2 separate regions of the Homo sapiens genome follow, and region 1 is linked to region 2. A link means that fine-mapping ties the variant in region 2 to the expression of a gene that starts in the linked region. Tissue or cell type: vagina. Region 2 holds a variant in brackets; the other region holds the start of a gene. All regions are shown on one strand. Distances are from middle to middle.

Region 1 (7,496 bases), 23 kb after region 2:
ACCCTGCAGGGAGAGGCAGACGCTCCGGGTGCTGTGCAGGCCCCCGGCCCAGCCTCCTTCTCGCTAGTGAAACGCACACTCGCGGCAGCCGCCATCTGGCGCCCCAGGGAAAACAGAGCGAGCATGGGCGCTCACGGGGCCCTGCAGCCCAGCAGCGGGCAAGGCCGTTCCCACAGCACCCCCTCTCCAGGGCACCGCCAGCGTCTGCCTCCAGACCTGAGAACCTCGAGATCCCCCACCTGGCCACCACAGCACAGTTGGGCCCTGGAAACCCAAGGGACTGCAGGGACAAGAGAAGCCCGCGTGGAGGGCAGCGGACTTCAGCCCACAGCGGATGAGCCCTGCCGGTCACTACTGTGCGGGACAGGGACATCCCCACCTGCCTGACGGCATCAACCAGAGACTCCAAAGTCTCCAGAGGCCGTGAGGCACCAGAGGGTGGCAGGGGACGAGGACCCAAGAAGACGGGTGGCAAAGGGGGTCCCCGAGGCAGGGCCTCACCTTGGAGAGAGTCCACAACCGCCTGCAGCACCCGGACGACCTCCTCGCCGAGCAGGCGGAAGTAGTTCTGGGGGAAGAACTCGGCCAAGTTCTCCTGCTGCAGGCGGTTGCCCAGGTGATCGGGCAGGGCCACCACCTTGCCCAGCAGCGTCTCCCGGAGCAGGATGAAGCCGGGCTGCGTCTGCTGCCGACACTGCGCCTCCATCAGCACTGCCAGCCGGCCCTCGCGCAGGAATCTGGCCAGCAGCCGCGCCATCTTCATCAGCCGGAAGCTGGGGCTGAAGATACGGGCGTGTTGGGCAGAGCCGCCAACCCCCATCCTCGGGGCCCCCTTCCTGCCACAAGGAACCAGCAGCCCGGATTACACGGGCAGCCCCAACAACATAACCAGCGTGAAGTCCAAAACCACAAGCCGGATGGGAAAATCTGTTAATCCATTCCTAAATAACTGCGATTACTGTGTGAGAGCTCTCGGGGCCCTGAGCGGCTTCCCCAACCTGGAGTCTCACTGGACACCCCTCCCCTGCTGCTGACGCGGATAACTCAGTGCTTGCTTTGATCACAGCAACCTCTGAAAACCCAGCTTCTCAAGATGCAGTGTCCCGGCAAGGACTGCAGTGTGATCTGAGGCTGAGCCTGGGAGCCGGCTGGGGCTGGGAGTCCACATGGGACACGTGTCAGTGATGACAGCTGTGCTTCCCTGGAAAACCTGGAACGTCCCCAGCTGACGGGCTGCCTCTGCCGCCTGGGATGTGAACACTCCCACCCCATCCCTCTCTGACACAGCCGGACGGGGAGCAAGTGGGGGACTTTGTGAGACACAGCAGGTGCCTCCCGTCGCAAAGGAGACAGACACAGACCGCTTCTTCTGTTCAGGGGTTCAGCCAGGAGCAGGCTCTCTCTCTAGCCCCTCACAGGGACTAGAGAGGCTCTTGGTCCAGTCCTTCAAGCCACTCTCATCACTTCTGAGGCTACCGGCAACCCCAGGATGGGCCCAGCCCACTCACCCCGCAGCACCCTCGATGGTCTCCATCAACACCAGGAAGGCTTGGTCCGCCGGGCCCTCCAGGAAGAAGCTGGCCCACAGCTCCTCCAGGCGGCCATGGGGCAGCAGCTCCAGCCAGGCTGGGCTCAGCCTGCTGGCAAGACATCTGAGGACAGGCGAGAAGTGGGCCGAGGCAAACTCCTCCTTCTCCCTCGGGAGCGCTGGAGGCTCCATCTCACCGAGATACCGCTTCAGGGACTCCAGGGTGCAGAAGATGTGGCCGCCATCCTCCGAAGACGAGAGGGCATGAATGGCTTCCCGGACGGCGAGTCGAACCTCTGAGGGTGCTGGCTCCATCCTGCAGGACAGATCTGGGCGTCACGGGAAGACGACCTGTGACATGGACACAGGGCTCAGCTTGGGGCACGGAAATAATCCACACAAGCTCAGGAAGCCCCTCGGTGAGCGCCCCGAGACCCCACACCCCTCAACCCTGGTCCCACCCAACCCTGTCCCGCCTCCTTCCCCTCCAGTGCCTGCCGGTTTCCACCCAGAGTTCGCTCCTCCGCTCGGACCCCAACGCTACCAGCCACTGCAGGGCTTCTCAACCCGGGCCACTGTGCCCAGGGAACATTCTCAGTTGTCTCAACCGGGAGTGCCACTGGCGCGAGAGGGAGGTGGAGGCTAGAGATGCTGGTGAGTGTTCCCCGGGCACAGCGCGGCCCCACGCGTCCTCGCACCCAAGGCGGGAAACTCGGCCCGCGGGAGCTGCCGGCCCTCCCGGCTCCCTGAGCGGTGAGAGGTGGCTCCAGTCGCCATTCCTCCGCCCCTTAGAAACCAACAGCTTACGGGGAACACGGGTTCGGGGCTAGAGGAGCCGCACGCGGACCCGCCCCCGATCCAGGCCCGGACCCCGACCTGTACCCGGACCCCGACCGGACTCCTACCCGACCTGGACCCGACCCAACCAGACCTGGAGCCCAACCCGACCCAACCGGACCCCCGATCCCCGATCCCCGACCCCCAACCCGACCTGGACCCGGCTCCCGGGTGACTGCAGCGCGCTCAGGCGCCGCGCGCCACCGATTCGCTGCAGCCGATTCCCCACGGCCGCCGCGGCCCCGGACGAAACGCGATCGCGGCCCAGCCGGTTGGCCCCGAGCACGAGTTCCTGGGTCCGGGCGAGGCTCCCGCGGGTTTTCTTGAGCCTCTGGGGCGGGTCTCCGCGGGCCTCTCAGCGCGAATCTGCGGAGGACGCCAGGCGGGAGGGCGCATCTGCGCCTGCGCTGCGCGGGGACGGGGCGGAGCCTGGACGCGGGAGCGGGGGGCGGTGGGGTGGGCGGGGCCTGACGCGTGAGTGGGGCGGGGCCTGAGGGCAGGGCCGCGCTTCCCCACGTGGCTGCGAGCTGGGTTCGCTGCGCCCGGGTGGTGGGTTCTCGCCTTAGTTTCTCCCATCTCGGTCGTCCCTACCCTGGAGTGATGTCAGCCGTCTCTTCCCTCCGCCTCGGGTCCCACATTCTCTCCAGAACGCCGAGCGTTCGCTCTAAGGCAGATGTTTACCAAGACAGGCCTGGCTCGTCTTCCCCGGATGTAAGGCTCTGCTTTCAAGGGTCAGAGGCCAGTAAGGGAAACGCACGGTACACAAGGAAGTAAAAGAGCAGTTGAGATCATGTCAGATCTGAACAATTGCAGCTCCGTAAATGAGGCCGGGTCGTGGAATAAAAACTGCGACCAGTAGGGTAAGCGCTAGACGCATGTGGCTCTGTAAATTAACTGAAGTTAAATAAGTCCAGTTCCCTTGCAGCACTAGCCCCATCTCAAGGGCTCGGTACTACCTTTGGCTGTGGCCGCCAGGCTGGACAGCCGGACACTGAACATTTACAACATGCAGTGCCTTCTGTACACCGCAGCGGAGTGTGGGGGGCTTCATCTTTGTGGAGGGGGCAATCCAGGAAGACACCTAAAGAGGCGCCATTTCAGCAGTGATGGATGTGGGAAAAGCTGGGGAACAGTTATCCATTCAACAAACATTGATTAAATGCCTGCTTGGTGCACCAAGCCTTCTGAGCAACAAATGATGCAAAGTTCCTGCTCACCTATCGGGGGAACAGATAAAGTACATACGAAATATGCCAGGTGACAGGCCTCGAGCAGAAAAACTGGCAGAGGCCGGGCCCGGTGGCTCACGCCGGTAATTCCAGCACTGGGAAGCTGAGGTGGGAGAATCGTTTGCACCCAGAAGTTCAAGAATGGGAAAAATAGTGAGACCCTGTCTCTACAAAAAATTTAAAAATTAGCCAGGCACGGTGTCATGAGCCTGTGATCCCAGCTACTCAGGAGGCTGAGGTGGGAGGATGGCTTGAGCCCGGGAGGTTGAGGCTGCAGTGAGCCATGTTCACTGCCACTGCACTCCAGCCTGGACAACAGAGCAAGACCCTGTTTCAAAAAAAAAAAAGGAATCAAAATAAAAAACCGGTAGGGTAAGAAAATAAGAGCCAGTGGCCGGGCACAGTGGTTCACACCTCTAATCCCAGCACTTAGGGAGGCCGAGACGGGTGGGTCACAAGCTCAGGAGTTCGAGACCAGCCTGGCCAACATGGTGAAACCCCGTCTCTCCTAAAAAAAGAATAATAATAATAATAATAGTAATACAAAAATTAGTTGGGCGTGGTGGCATGTGTCTGTGATCCCAGCTACTTGGGAGGCTGAGGCAGGAGAATTGCTTGAACCCAGGAGGCAGAGGTTGCAATGAGTGGAGATTGTGCCATTGAACTCCAGCCTGGGTGACAGAGCGAGACTCCTCCAAAAAAAAAAAAAAAGAAAAGAGCCAGAGAGCAGTGGGTGCTGTCTTACGTAAGGTGAGAGCTCTGAACAGAACACCTTAGAGCAGAGCCCTGAATGTGTTGACAGCCAGGGAAGAGTCTCACTGGCAGGAAAACGGCAGGTGCAAAGGCCTGAGGCCGCAACTGTTGCCCGGGAGGTGGAGCCGAGGGAGGCATATGCAGGGGTGAGGCCTGGAGGGAGTGAGGCAGTGGGCCAGGCCACAGAAGGCCCTCGCAGGGACTAAGATTTTGCTTGTGTGGCAGGCATCTCCTGGAGCCATTGAAGGCACGGGTCCATGCTGGTGCAGTTAGGAGAGCAGACGGTAGGGGGGCGACACGGACGAGGGGACTAGGTGGCCATTGTGAGGATGAGCTTGGGGCGGAATGGGGGTGTAGAGAAGCAGCTGAACTCAGGGCATGTCTCTGCAGGCAGAGCTGATGGATGGGATATGGGGCAGGCAGCATCCCATCATCCCGGAAACTCCTCCTCCGTCCGCTGCTGGGTTCCAGCCCTCGCCAGTGCCCACGGCAGCTCCGTCCTTCCCTATTCCCTTCTTTTCCTGAAGCCCCGCATCCAACAGTGGGTGCTTGGAGGACAAATTTCTCAAGCCTTTGTGTGTCTGAAAATGTCTTTATTCTTTGCTCTGTCACCCAGGCTGGAGTGTAGTGGCGCGATTTCAGCTCACTGCAACCTCCTTCTCCCCGGCTCAGGCGATCCTCCCGCCTTAGCCTTCCAAGTAGCTGGGACTGCAGGTGCACACCACCACGTCTGGCTGATTTTTGTAATTTTAGTAGAGACGGGGTTTTGCCATGTTGCCCAGCCTGGTCTCGATCTCCTGGACTCAAGTGATCTGCCCACCTTGACCTCACAAAGTGCTGGGATTACAGGAGAGAGCCACCACACCCTGCCCCGACCCACAACTTTAAATGGAAATCAGGCAGGCTCAGTGGCTCACGCCAGTAAACCCAGCACTTTGGCTAGGCTGAGCTGGGAGGATTGCTTGAGCCCAGGAGTGTTTGAGAACAGCCTGGCAACATAGCAAGACCCTTCTCTACCGAAATAAAATAAATACATAAATAAATGGAACTCACTGTCAGTTGGAAGCTGCGAGATCCGCCGCTCTGTGTGTGGCACCAGCGTCGCTGTCCTGGTGGCTGCCAGTCCCCCGGGGCCTAAGGCCCCAACCCCGTCCATGTGCCCAGGATGTTCTCTCCGATGCTTTCTGCATCTTCTCCATGTCCATGGTGTTCTGACGCTTGACAAGGGGAGCCTGGGGGCCACCGATGGTTTCCTGGCCTGGCACCCTCTTGGCTCATGCCACCTTGGGAATGATGGATGCCCCCAGTGGGACAACTTTGTGGATGATCTTATTCCCATGAGCTGGGCGGCTTGAAACAACAGAAATGAGTCCTATCACAGTTCTGGGGGCTGGAAGTCTTGAAGTGAAGGTGCACACTCCCTCGAAGGCTCTGGGCTGGGGGTTCCCACTTTACCTCTTCCAGCTTCTGGGGCCTCTGGGGGTTCCTCGTGGCAGCGTCACCCCAGTCTCTGCCCCATCTTCACAGGCCGTGTCCTCTGTGCCTCCTCCTCTGTCTCTTGTACCCCTGTCATTGGCTTTAGGGCCACCTGGATAATCCAGGATGGTCTCATCTCAAAATCCTTCATGACATCCGCAGAGACCTTTTCCACATAAGGCCCTGCCTGGGGCTTATGTGTGTTTTTAGGAGGGTCTCATTCAAGCCAGTACACAACCTGTAACCAAAAATACCAGCCTGGCCCACATGGGGCAACCCCGTCTCTACTACAAATACAAAAATTGGCCGGGCGCGGTGGCTCATGCCTGTAATCCCAGCATTTCGGGAGGCTACAGCGGGTGGATCACCTGAGGTCGGGAGTTTGAGACCAGCCTGGCCCACATGGTGAAACCCCGTCTCTACTAAAAATACAAAAATTAGCCGGATGTGGGGGCACATACCTGTAATCCCAGCTACTTGGGAGGCTGAGACAGGAGAATCCGTTAAACCCAGGAGGCGGAGCTTGTGGTGAGCGGAGATCGCACCACTGCACTCCAGCCTGGGTGACAGAGCAAGACTCCGTCAAAAAAATTAATTAATTGGCCAGGCGCAGTGGCTCATGCCTGTAATCCGAACACTTAGGGAGGCTGAGGCAGGCAAATCATGAGGTCAGAAGTTTGAGACCAGCCTGACCAACATAGTGAAACCCCATCTCTACTAAAAATACTAAAATTAGCCGGGCATGGTAAAGCACGCCTGTAATCCCAGCTCCTCAGGAGGCAGGAGGCTGAGGAAGGAGAATCGCTTGAGCCGGGGAGGCAGAGGTTGCAGTGAGCTGAGATTGCGCCATTGCACTCTAGCCTAGGCAACAGAACGAGACTCCATCTCAAATAATAATAATAATTAATTAATTAAGGTGGCTCCCAGTCACATTTCCATTGCTTTACTGAGAGAGACGGGGCCTCCCAGGATGCAGCCGTGCACGGCCTGGGTGATGGGTGCCTGTGCAGACCTGGCTCTGTTGACTCCCCAGCCCCCGTCGGGTTCCCTGTCTTGCTTCGACTTCTCGGGAGCACAAGTCCATGTGCTCCTGTTAAAGCCATCGCCTCCTGCCCGCGGGCTTGCACCCAGCTGAATGATTCTTCAAAGAAACTGTTTGCATCTGTTTTAAGCTTGTCTCCTTAGGAACCTGCAAGTCTCAGAGCCCACTGGCTTGAAGGCAGATGCCTTTCATGGAGGCGGCAGGAAGAACCTGACATCCAGCCAGGGCCAAAGAAGGAAAACCACTCAACAGGAGAGCTGGGGGGACGAGACACAAGACAGACCCACGGAGCCACCTTCACCCTCTCCTGCGGCTGGAGGGAGACTGCTGGGGCCTTGCCGTCTCTCCGGATGGGTTGCTCGTGGAGGAAGACCTTGTCTTTCTTCCTTGTTTTTGTGCCTATATATCTACATGGGGCTTCATCGCAGGAAGCCGCCCCAGTGGGGCCCAGGAAACCGTTTTTCGAGAGGCTCCGTAGGCTGGAGGAACAGGCAAGTTATACCCCTGACATGGCGCAGTCGGGTTTTTAAATTGGCAGCAGATGGAAGACGGATGTTACAGAAGCAGATTGGTAAACATCAGGGCTTGGCGGACACGAACACCGCGTGTGACGCTCTTTCCATCCATGAAG
Region 2 (8,964 bases):
AGGGCCGGGGCTGACCACGAGAAACCCCAGCCAGCAAAAGGGCAGGACAGCAGATGGGAGCTCACTTGGGACAGCACTACTGCTGAAGACACACCCCACCTCCTCCTGGGAGCCCTCAGAGCCCGGGCACAGCCTTGGGAAGGTGTTCTGGAAACACCAGAGACGCTGAGAGAGAAACCTGGTGGGGGAGTGGGAGGAGGAGGCAGATGTGGAGCAGGAGAGGGTGTGTCTGGGGAGCCACAGACCTGCTGAGGGTGTGCAGGGGCCGGGCAGGGGAGTCCTGAGTGAGTGCCGCTGTGTGACCTGGGGTTGGGGGACCATGGTGACCAGAGGGCTCATGCCTCTCCACAGGTCAACTGCCACCAGCTCCAAGCTTGTGGAGAGGAGACCCAGGCAGCCAGCCGATGGTCTCGGTTTTCAGGAGAGGCCAAGATGCTAAGTTTATTTGAACACCTCCCCATCTTTATTATGGGCAGGTGACTCAGCTTTTCAGAGAGCTGCTGTGTGGCCACCACGGTGGGCACTCGCCTGTGCGCTTCAGGGCCCAGCTTCTGTCTCAGCTGGCAGGGCTGTTTTCCTTATCGGAGAACCTTTTCCAAAACAAGAGTTCCAGAAGTCCTTTGAACAAGGTCGTACAAAGCGGTGCCCCTTGGAAGGGCACGGTCCACCTGCACGTGTCGATTCTGGGGTATCAGCGTCTCACAGATGTCTGCTGAGCTGAGGCCACAGGGCAGGAGCGGAGGAGAATCGATAGCAGCTGGTCATCAGGGATAGCACAGGACGTGGGTGGAGGGGAGACGACGTGTGAGGGCCAGGGTGGGCAACCTTCTATGGGCCAGGGGTCAGAGGGCAGGCCAGGCGCCTGTCTGGAATGGCCGAGTCAGTGGGTGGCCAGATGGGCCCTGGACCCTCCTGACATGGGAGCCTGAGCTCCACACGGCTCCAGTCACCTGCCCTGGACCATGTTGTGTTCCAGCAGGCTCACCTCCCTGGTGTCACCCCAGCTCACAGGCCACACACCCTGCTCTGCCACAGACCCTCACGCCAGGTCACACACGCAGCCTGTGTGCGGGCAGCCTCTCTGCTTGGAGGGTTCTTCCCAGCGGCCTTGGGCAAGGGGTGCCGTGCGCCTCTCCGTGTACCCTGTCCACATGCACCACATCCCCTCTGGGTCACGCTTTGTGCAGAGGTTTCTAGCCCCCTCTGGACTGTTCCATAGAGCAGGAACTAGGGGTCGGAAGTCTTTGGTCTTCAGTCCAAGCATAGGACCCAGCATTCAAGTGATCAGTAAGAATGTTACATGGATGAGTTAATTTATGAATGAACAAATTAAGGAATTAATGAATTTAACTTCATAGAAAGTTTCCTCCTGCCATTCCGGAGAGCTCCTCTTACAGGCCAAGAGTCTCCTCTGACCTCTGATAGCAGTAGGTGTTCAGGGCTTCGGGGCCCAGGCCTCATCTCTGCTCTCGGCAGGACGTACACAGAGGACCCCAAGGAGTCCATCAAGCAGTGTGAGCTGCTCCTGGAGGAACCAGACCTGGACAGCACCATCCGCATCGGGGACGTCTATGGCTTCCTGGTGGAGCACTACGTGCGGAAGGAGGAATACCAGACGGTGAGGCCTGAGTGCTGCTCACTAGCAGCATCCCGCCACACAAGGCTCCTGAAACGAAGGCTTAACGGCTCAAACTGAGGCTGTGTGTGGCGGCTCACTCCTGTAATCCCAGCACTTTGGGAGGCTGAGGCAGGAGAATGACTTGAGCCCAGGAGTTCAAGAGCAGCCTGGGCGACATGGTGAAACCCCATCTCTACAAAAAGGGGAAAAATTAGCCAGGCATGGTGGCTCACACCTGGGGTCCCAGCTGCTTGGGAGGCTGAGGTGGGAGGATCCCTTGAGCCCAGGAGGTTGAGGCTGCAGTGAGATCTGATGGCGCCACTGCACTCCAGCCTGGGTGACAGAGCGAGACCCTGTCTCAAAAGAAAAAAAAAATCTGTCGGTAGCAAAAAGTAACAGTCTCACGCTGTTACTGGCTGTTACTAGCAGTGTCGCAGGAAAGCGACAGACTTACTTTATTTGTGAAGAAATGTCTGCATGTACCCGAGTCTGAATAACCACGATTTCTTTTTCAGGGATTTTCACAAAAAAAGAAAATGGTGTTCCATTTTTTAGTCGCTTATTTTTTAATTTTAGAGACAGCGTGTAGTCACTTTAAAGTGACCAGCTAATCACTTATTCAGCCGCAGTGTTCTAGCGTTTTCCTCATCCCCACCAACATTTGATCATTCTTTCGAACTGTAGCCATCCTAGGGGGTGAACAGTACCTTGCTGAGGTTTAAATTCACATTTTCTGGATGAGTAGTGATGTGCAGCTCCTTCTCATGTGCTTATTATCCATTTACACACCTTCTGTGAAGGCTTCAAGTCTCTTCTCATCATTTTATTGGGTTTTCTTATTATTGTACTTTTTTTTTTTTTTTTTGGAGACGGAGTCTCACTCTGTTGCCCAGGCTGGAGCGCAGTGGCGCGATCTCGGCTCACTGCAAGCTCCGCCTCCTGGGTTCACGCCATTCTCCTGCCTCAGCCTCCCAAGTAGCTGGGACTACAGGTGTGCATCAGCATGCCTGTAGAGATGGGGTTTCACCATTTGGCCAGGCTGGTCTTGAACTCGTGACCTCAAGTGATCCACCCGCCTCCACCTCCCAAAGTGCTGGGATTACAGGCGTGAGCCACCGCGCCTGGCCGAAGTTCCCTTCTATTCCTTTTTTCCTCTGCTTCTGAAATTCCAATGACTTGTATATACAGTACCATCCCCTAGCTCAACTGATGCTCTTCTTTTCTCCCCCAAGGACTTTTTCTGTTTTTCATTTTAGGGATTTGCCATTTCTGTTGCTTCAAGTTTACCAGCTTTCCTTCTGCAGTGTCTCACTCTGATGGTAATCCCATCCATCTTTTTCATGTCAGTTTTCTACCAGTCAACTTTTTCTACCAGTTTTTATTATTGTTACTTTAAACCTTTTTTCCTGCCTTCTTTTTAGTTGATTTTTTTTTTTTTTTTTTTTTGAGACAGAGTGTCGCTCTGTCGCCCAGGCTGGAGTGCGGTGGTGCAATCTCGGCTCACTGCAAGCTCTGCCTCCCGGGTTCACGCCATTCTCCTACCTCAGCCTCCCGAGTAGCTGGGACTACAGGCGCCCGCCACCACGCCCAGATAATTTTTTTGTATTTTTAGTAGAGACAGGGTTTCACCGTGTTAGCCAGGATGGTCTCGATCTCCTGACCTCATGATCCGCCCGCCTCGGCCTCCCAAAGTGCTGGGATTACAGGCGTGAGCCACCGCACCTGGCCTTAGTGGACTATTTTTTATAATTTCATTTTAGCTATCAGCTTTTTATCTCTACTCCTCTTTGCATTGTATTTCTAGTGTTTGCCCTGGAGATTACCATAAACATACTTACCACACTAGAGTTAGCAGGTAGGTCCATTTCCCACCCGTGTCCCCACCTGTATTTGTCGTATGTGTAACATGTACATGTATTATAAACACAGTATAGTGTTATAATTGTTGCTTTCAACAGTCATATGTATTTTGAAGAAATTAAAAGGAAAGAAATAGTCTTTTACATTTACCTACATATTTACCATCCATTTCTGGTGTTTTTTTTTTTTTTTTTTTTTTTTTTTTTTTTTTTTTTTGAGACAGAGTTTTGCTCTTTGTAGCCCAGGCTGGAGTGGGCAACAAACCTCAGCTCACCACAACCTCTACCCTCCAGGTTCAAGTGATTCTCCTGCCTCAGCCTCCGGAGTAGCTGGGATTACAGGCATGCGCCACCACGCCTGGCTAATTTTGTATTTTTAGGGGAGATGGGGTTTCTCCATGTTGGTCAGGCTGGTCTCAAACTCCCAACCTCAGGTGATCTGCCTGCCTCGGCCTCCCAAAGCGTCATTTCTGGTGTTCTTACTTCTTCCCTATGATTCCGATTTGCATGTGGTATCACTCCTCTTCAGCCTGAGCTCCCTTTAACATTTCTTCTAGTTCAGATCTCCTGATGATGAATTTTCTTACTTTTCGTTAATCTGAAATGTATTTATTTTGCCTGTATTCTTCAAGGTTGTTCTCATCAGATAGAGAATTCTGAGGCCAGGCACAGTGGCTCATGCCTGTAATCTCAGCACTTTGGGAGGCCAAGGTGGGAGGATTTCTTGAGGCCAGGAGTTCAAGTCCAGCCTGGGTAACAAGTGAGACCCCATCTCTGAAAAAAATAGCAAGGCATGGTGGCATGCACCTGCAGTCTTGGCTGCTTGGGAGGCTGAGGTGGGAGGACTGCTTGAGCCCAGGAGGTTGAGTCTGCAGTGAGCTGTGATAGCACCACTGCACTCCAGCCTGGGTGACAAAGCAAGATCCTGATTCAAAAAAAATCCTGATTTGACAGATTTTTTTCCTTTCAGCACTTGAATGTTTTCCCTGTCTGGGCCTCCATTGTTTCTGGAAGAGTCAGCTATGGGCTGTCTGTGGGGCCCTTACATGTCATGTGTCTCTCCATCTCCCACTGCACTGGCTGCTGTCATGACTTTCTTCTTGAATTTGTGTTTCAGCAGTGCGATAATGATGTTCCTAGGTGTTTTCATTGTATTTATCCTGGGCTTTTGGGATCTATATTTGTGTTTTGCCAAATTTGGGAAATTTGCTCTTTTTCTCCTTCTGGGACTCCAATTAAATGTTAGGTCTTCCATATCTAGTAGACACACATTTGTGATTACTGCTCATTATTTTCTTTTTTTCTGTCCTTTGGATTAATTTGTATTTATCTAGACTTTCTTTAGCTATCTTCAATCTGCTGTTAACCTCTCCAGCAATCTTTTTAGAGCTTGTATTTTGCAGCCCTAGAATTTACACTTAGTTCTTTTTATTATTTATTGGCTAAAATTCCCTATTTGTTAATTTGTTTAAAATATATTTTATATTTATATCCTAAAGCAGAGTTGTAACTGCTGCTGTAAAATCTTAGCTACCGGTTCCAATATCTGGGTCATGTAGGATTGATCTCCATTACTTGCCTTTTGAGTATGGGTCAAATTTTCCTGTTTCTTATGTCTAGTCATTTTTTTGTATCATGGACATTGTGGATAATCCATTGTAGAGACTCTGGATTCTGTTACATTCCTCCAAAGAGTATTGCTTTTTTTTGGTTCATTTTATTAGGCAATCACCTTTGCTCAGCTCAGAGCCGAAACTCTTTCCCCTGTGGTGGATAGCAGCTGAAATCCCTGCTTGTAGCGTGAGTTGGCTTAAAGTCTGCACCTCCCCTGCCTCATGTGTAGTGTGGGAGCAACTAGTGACGAGGGCAGCATATGCTCAGGATTTGGGATCCCCTCTATGCCTGCTGCATCCCAACGTTTCCACCTTCACATTCCAGCTGCTGTGGTCAACAAAAATCTTTTATTTATTTATTTATTTATTTATTTGAGATGGAGTGTCGCTCTATCGCCCAGGCTGGAGTGCAGTGGCGTGATCTCGGCTCACTGCAAGCTCCGCCTCCCTGGTTCATGCCATTCTCCTGCTGCAGCCTCCCGAGTAGCTGGGACTACAGGCGCCCGCCACCACGCCCAGTTAATTTTTTTTGCATTTTTAGTAGAGACGGGGTTTCACCGTGTTAGCCAGGATGGTCTCGATCTCCTGACCTCGTGATCCACCCACCTTGGCCTCCCAAAGTGCTGGGATTACAGGCGTGAGGTACCGCACCTGGCCAACAAAAATCTTGATTCTGATTCTTTAAGCCTGGAAGAGGGCAGGCTTCGAGGTGGCTGATGCCCACACTGGCCCTGACTTGGGCCTACCCTGAGGCAGAAAGTTGTGAGAAGCAGCCGGGTGCAGTGGCTCACGCCTGTAATCCCAGCACTTTGGGAGGCCAAGGC[G/A]GGCAGATCATGAGGTCAGGAGATGGAGACCATCTTGGCTAACACGGTGAAACCCCGTCTCTACTAAAAATACAAAAAATTAGCCGGGTGTGGTGGTGGGCGCCTGTAGTCCCAGCTACTTGGGAGGCTGAGGCAGGAGAATGGTGTGAACCCGGGAGGCGGAGCTTGCAGTGAGCAGAGATCGCACCACTGCACTCCAGCCTGGGCGACACAGCAAGACTCCGTCTCAAAAAAGAAAAAAAAAAAAAGAAAGTTGTGAGAAGCAGGAAGCCTGCCCAGTGCCACCCACTCCCAGCATCAGCCTGCTCACGGCTGCCCCCAGTGCCTTTCCATGTGTCCGTCGTCATTAGGGGGAGGGCTGCTCTCACAGGAGTCGTGCTGCTGTTGTCAGAAGCCTCTCTTCTCATTCTTTTTTCTTTTCTGAGACAGTCTTGCTCTGTTGCCCAGCTGGAGTGCAGTGGCATGATCGTGGCTCACTGCAACCTCCGCCTCCTGGGCTCAAGCAATTGTCCTGCCTCAGCCTCCCAAGTAGCTGGGACTACAGGTTCCCGCCACCACGCCCAGCTAATTTTTGTATTTATTTATTTATTTTTTAGTAGAGACGGGGTTTCACCGTGTTAGCCAGGATGGTCTTGATCTCCTGACCTCGTGATCCGCCCACCTCGGCCTCCCAAAGTGCTGGGATTACAGGCGTGAGCCACCGCGCCCGGCCTCTTTTTCAACCATAATTCTGTTGTAGCCAACATAGAGAATTGCACGCGCCTGCATCCGTCAGACCCTGCAGCTATGCCGATGCCTGCAGGGCCTCTGCACCCACCAGTTGTGTTGCCCTATTAGATAGTTCCCGGGACTCACAAACTGAGTATCGAGAAATGAGCTTGGGAAACATGCTGGCGACCGTGTCGGGCTCGCTGGGCTGCAGCCTCCAGAATTCACAGGAAAGCTCCTTGGCAGTGGCTCTCCCTCAGGGCTGAAAGGTCAGCTCCGTGAGACACAGACTTCCTGGCCCGGTTGCTCACTCCCCTCTGCGCCGTTCCACTTCCATTCACTGACCCCTTTTGCTGCTGGAAAAAACAACTCAAGTCTAATCCTAACAAGGTTTCTTTTTTGTTGTTGCTTGGTTTGGTTTTGAGACGAGGTCTTGCTCTGTCGCCCAGGCTGGAGTGCGGTGGCACAATCACAGCTCCCTGCAGCCTCAGCCTCCCGGGTTCAAGGGATCCTCGTGAGTGGCTGGTGTGCAGCACCGCGCCCTGCTCCAACGGGGTTTCTATTTCTAGGAGAACTATAGTTTTCCGTATAAAAGCAAAATTGGAGTAGAGAGATGCCCAGACTGCTATATCCTCAAAATTAACAGGAAATCCACATTTTAAATATTTCGCCAACTTCTTTATTCTCTCTATGGTTGCTTGAAGCCTGTGGAATTTAGTAACTCGAGATACAAAAGAAAAAAGAAACTGGGAAGCGCAGCTAAACTGAGAATGCCCAGGCACACGCTCCCTGGCTGCTGCTGTAGCGCCACCCGGGGTCACGTGCACCACCTCACCCAGGCCACAGCTCCTATATCCGCTCAGCTTTCCCGCCATCATCCATCATCTGAGCACAGCCCGCACACACCCTCCTGATGCTGGAGACCGGCAACATTTCTGTCCCCACGTCCTGCCCTCCACCGCCCCTCACCCACCTACGCCGCCTGTCCTGCCCCCCATCCTGCCCCCCACCCACCTATGCCGCCTGTCCTGCCCCCCATCCTGCCCCCCACCACCCCTCACCCACCTATGCCGCCTGTCCTGCCCCCCACCACCCCTCACCCGCCCTCCGCACCTTCTGCCTGCCTTCTGGAAACCACTTGATTGCCCTCTCCGAAGCTAGCTCTGCACACAGAGCAGTCACACGCACCAGGCCCTGGTTGCATCAGGACGCCGGCCCTTTCTGACCACAGGGTCCCTCTTCGACCCTGGTCAGCTCCTTCCTCTCTCTCCCTCCCTGTGCCAGCCCTTCTCTGAATTCTGCCACTGCAGGACCTCGGCCTGACCTGGCTCCCCACTACAGCATTACCCAAGCTTGTTCTGTGCCCTTACGTCCTGTGTCCCCTGTGTCCCCAGCACAGCGCCTGGCACATGGCAGGTGGTTTGTCAGCATGTAAGGCAGCATCTTTTCAGGTGTGGATGTTTGCCCTCAGCCTCTCGTTTGAGACTGTGTGGAAGGCTTGCACTCCACCAGCGCCCACCCCAGCTGAGGCCTTCCTTAAACGCAGGTCCACTGCCAGGTGATGGGAGGGGCCATCCAACAAGCTTATTATATCTTCATAGCTGAGACTCCATCTCAAAAAAAAAAAATACCCAAGCCAAACCAGTAGATATCGCTGCCTGCCCTCCACTCTGACATATGCATGTCCACCCGCAAGACTCGAGTGCAGAACGCGGGGCCTCTGCCTCCCCAGGAGGCTCTGCCCGCACACGCACGGTGAGCAGGCCTGTGCACAGCTGCTGAGGGACTTTCCAGGGCCCTGGCTCTGCATTTCCAGCTGAAATGCTGACCGAAGCTTCCTGTTGAGTGTCCACACATGGCATGTGTGCGGTCCGCGGGCACCGCATCCCCTCATCACCACATTCCCCCATCACCAATGGGAAGCCTCAGTGCACCCCGTGTCCTCCAGCGCGGAGGCACCCCCACCCGCCTCCAGGGGCAGCAGCACGTGCCTGGCCTGCAGGCAGAGGGTCGTGCCTGGTTGTTCAGGAAAGCTGAGTAATGTCTGCTCCTCTGCCCCAGGCCTACAGATTCCTGGAGGAGATGCGGCGGCGGCTTCCCTTGGCCAACATGTCCTACTACGTGAGCCCGCAGGCCGTGGACGCCGTGCACCGGGGGCTGGGTCTCCCACTGCCACGCACCGTCCCCGAGCAGGTCCGCCACAACAGCATGGAGGACGCCAGGGAGCTGGACGAGGAGGTGGTGGAAGAGGCAGATGACGACCCCTGAGGGGCCTGGGCCCCAGGACCAGCGTGCTGCTGCAGAAAGGCATCTTCTGGAATTTTTTTGTCAGCTGTGGCAAA

What was found. PIP is the estimated chance that this variant, and not a neighbour inherited with it, causes the effect.
Region 1: TELO2 starts here. The variant in region 2 is fine-mapped to the expression of TELO2 in vagina (GTEx, PIP 0.94).

The regions. Positions count from the first base shown.
Region 1 is chr16:1,488,629-1,496,124 of GRCh38, reverse strand. TELO2 (telomere maintenance 2) reads right to left here and starts at 2,765. Exons shown (of 21, transcript NM_016111.4): 1 at 2,520-2,765; 2 at 1,509-1,879; 3 at 502-779. The coding sequence starts at 1,843. PTX4 (pentraxin 4) reads left to right here and starts at 7,181. Exons shown (of 3, transcript NM_001328608.2): 1 at 7,181-7,356. The coding sequence starts at 7,216. RefSeq lists enhancers at 1-257, 258-1,158, 2,060-2,960, 3,058-3,107 and silencers at 2,328-2,527, 2,538-2,587, 2,758-2,847.
Region 2 is chr16:1,510,870-1,519,833 of GRCh38, reverse strand. IFT140 (intraflagellar transport 140) reads left to right here. Exons shown (of 31, transcript NM_014714.4): 30 at 1,477-1,618; 31 at 8,684-8,964. The coding sequence ends at 8,890. Among named protein-coding and RNA genes, the nearest start is that of TMEM204, 18 kb to the left of the region's middle. The variant G/A (reference allele first, on the strand shown) is at 5,915.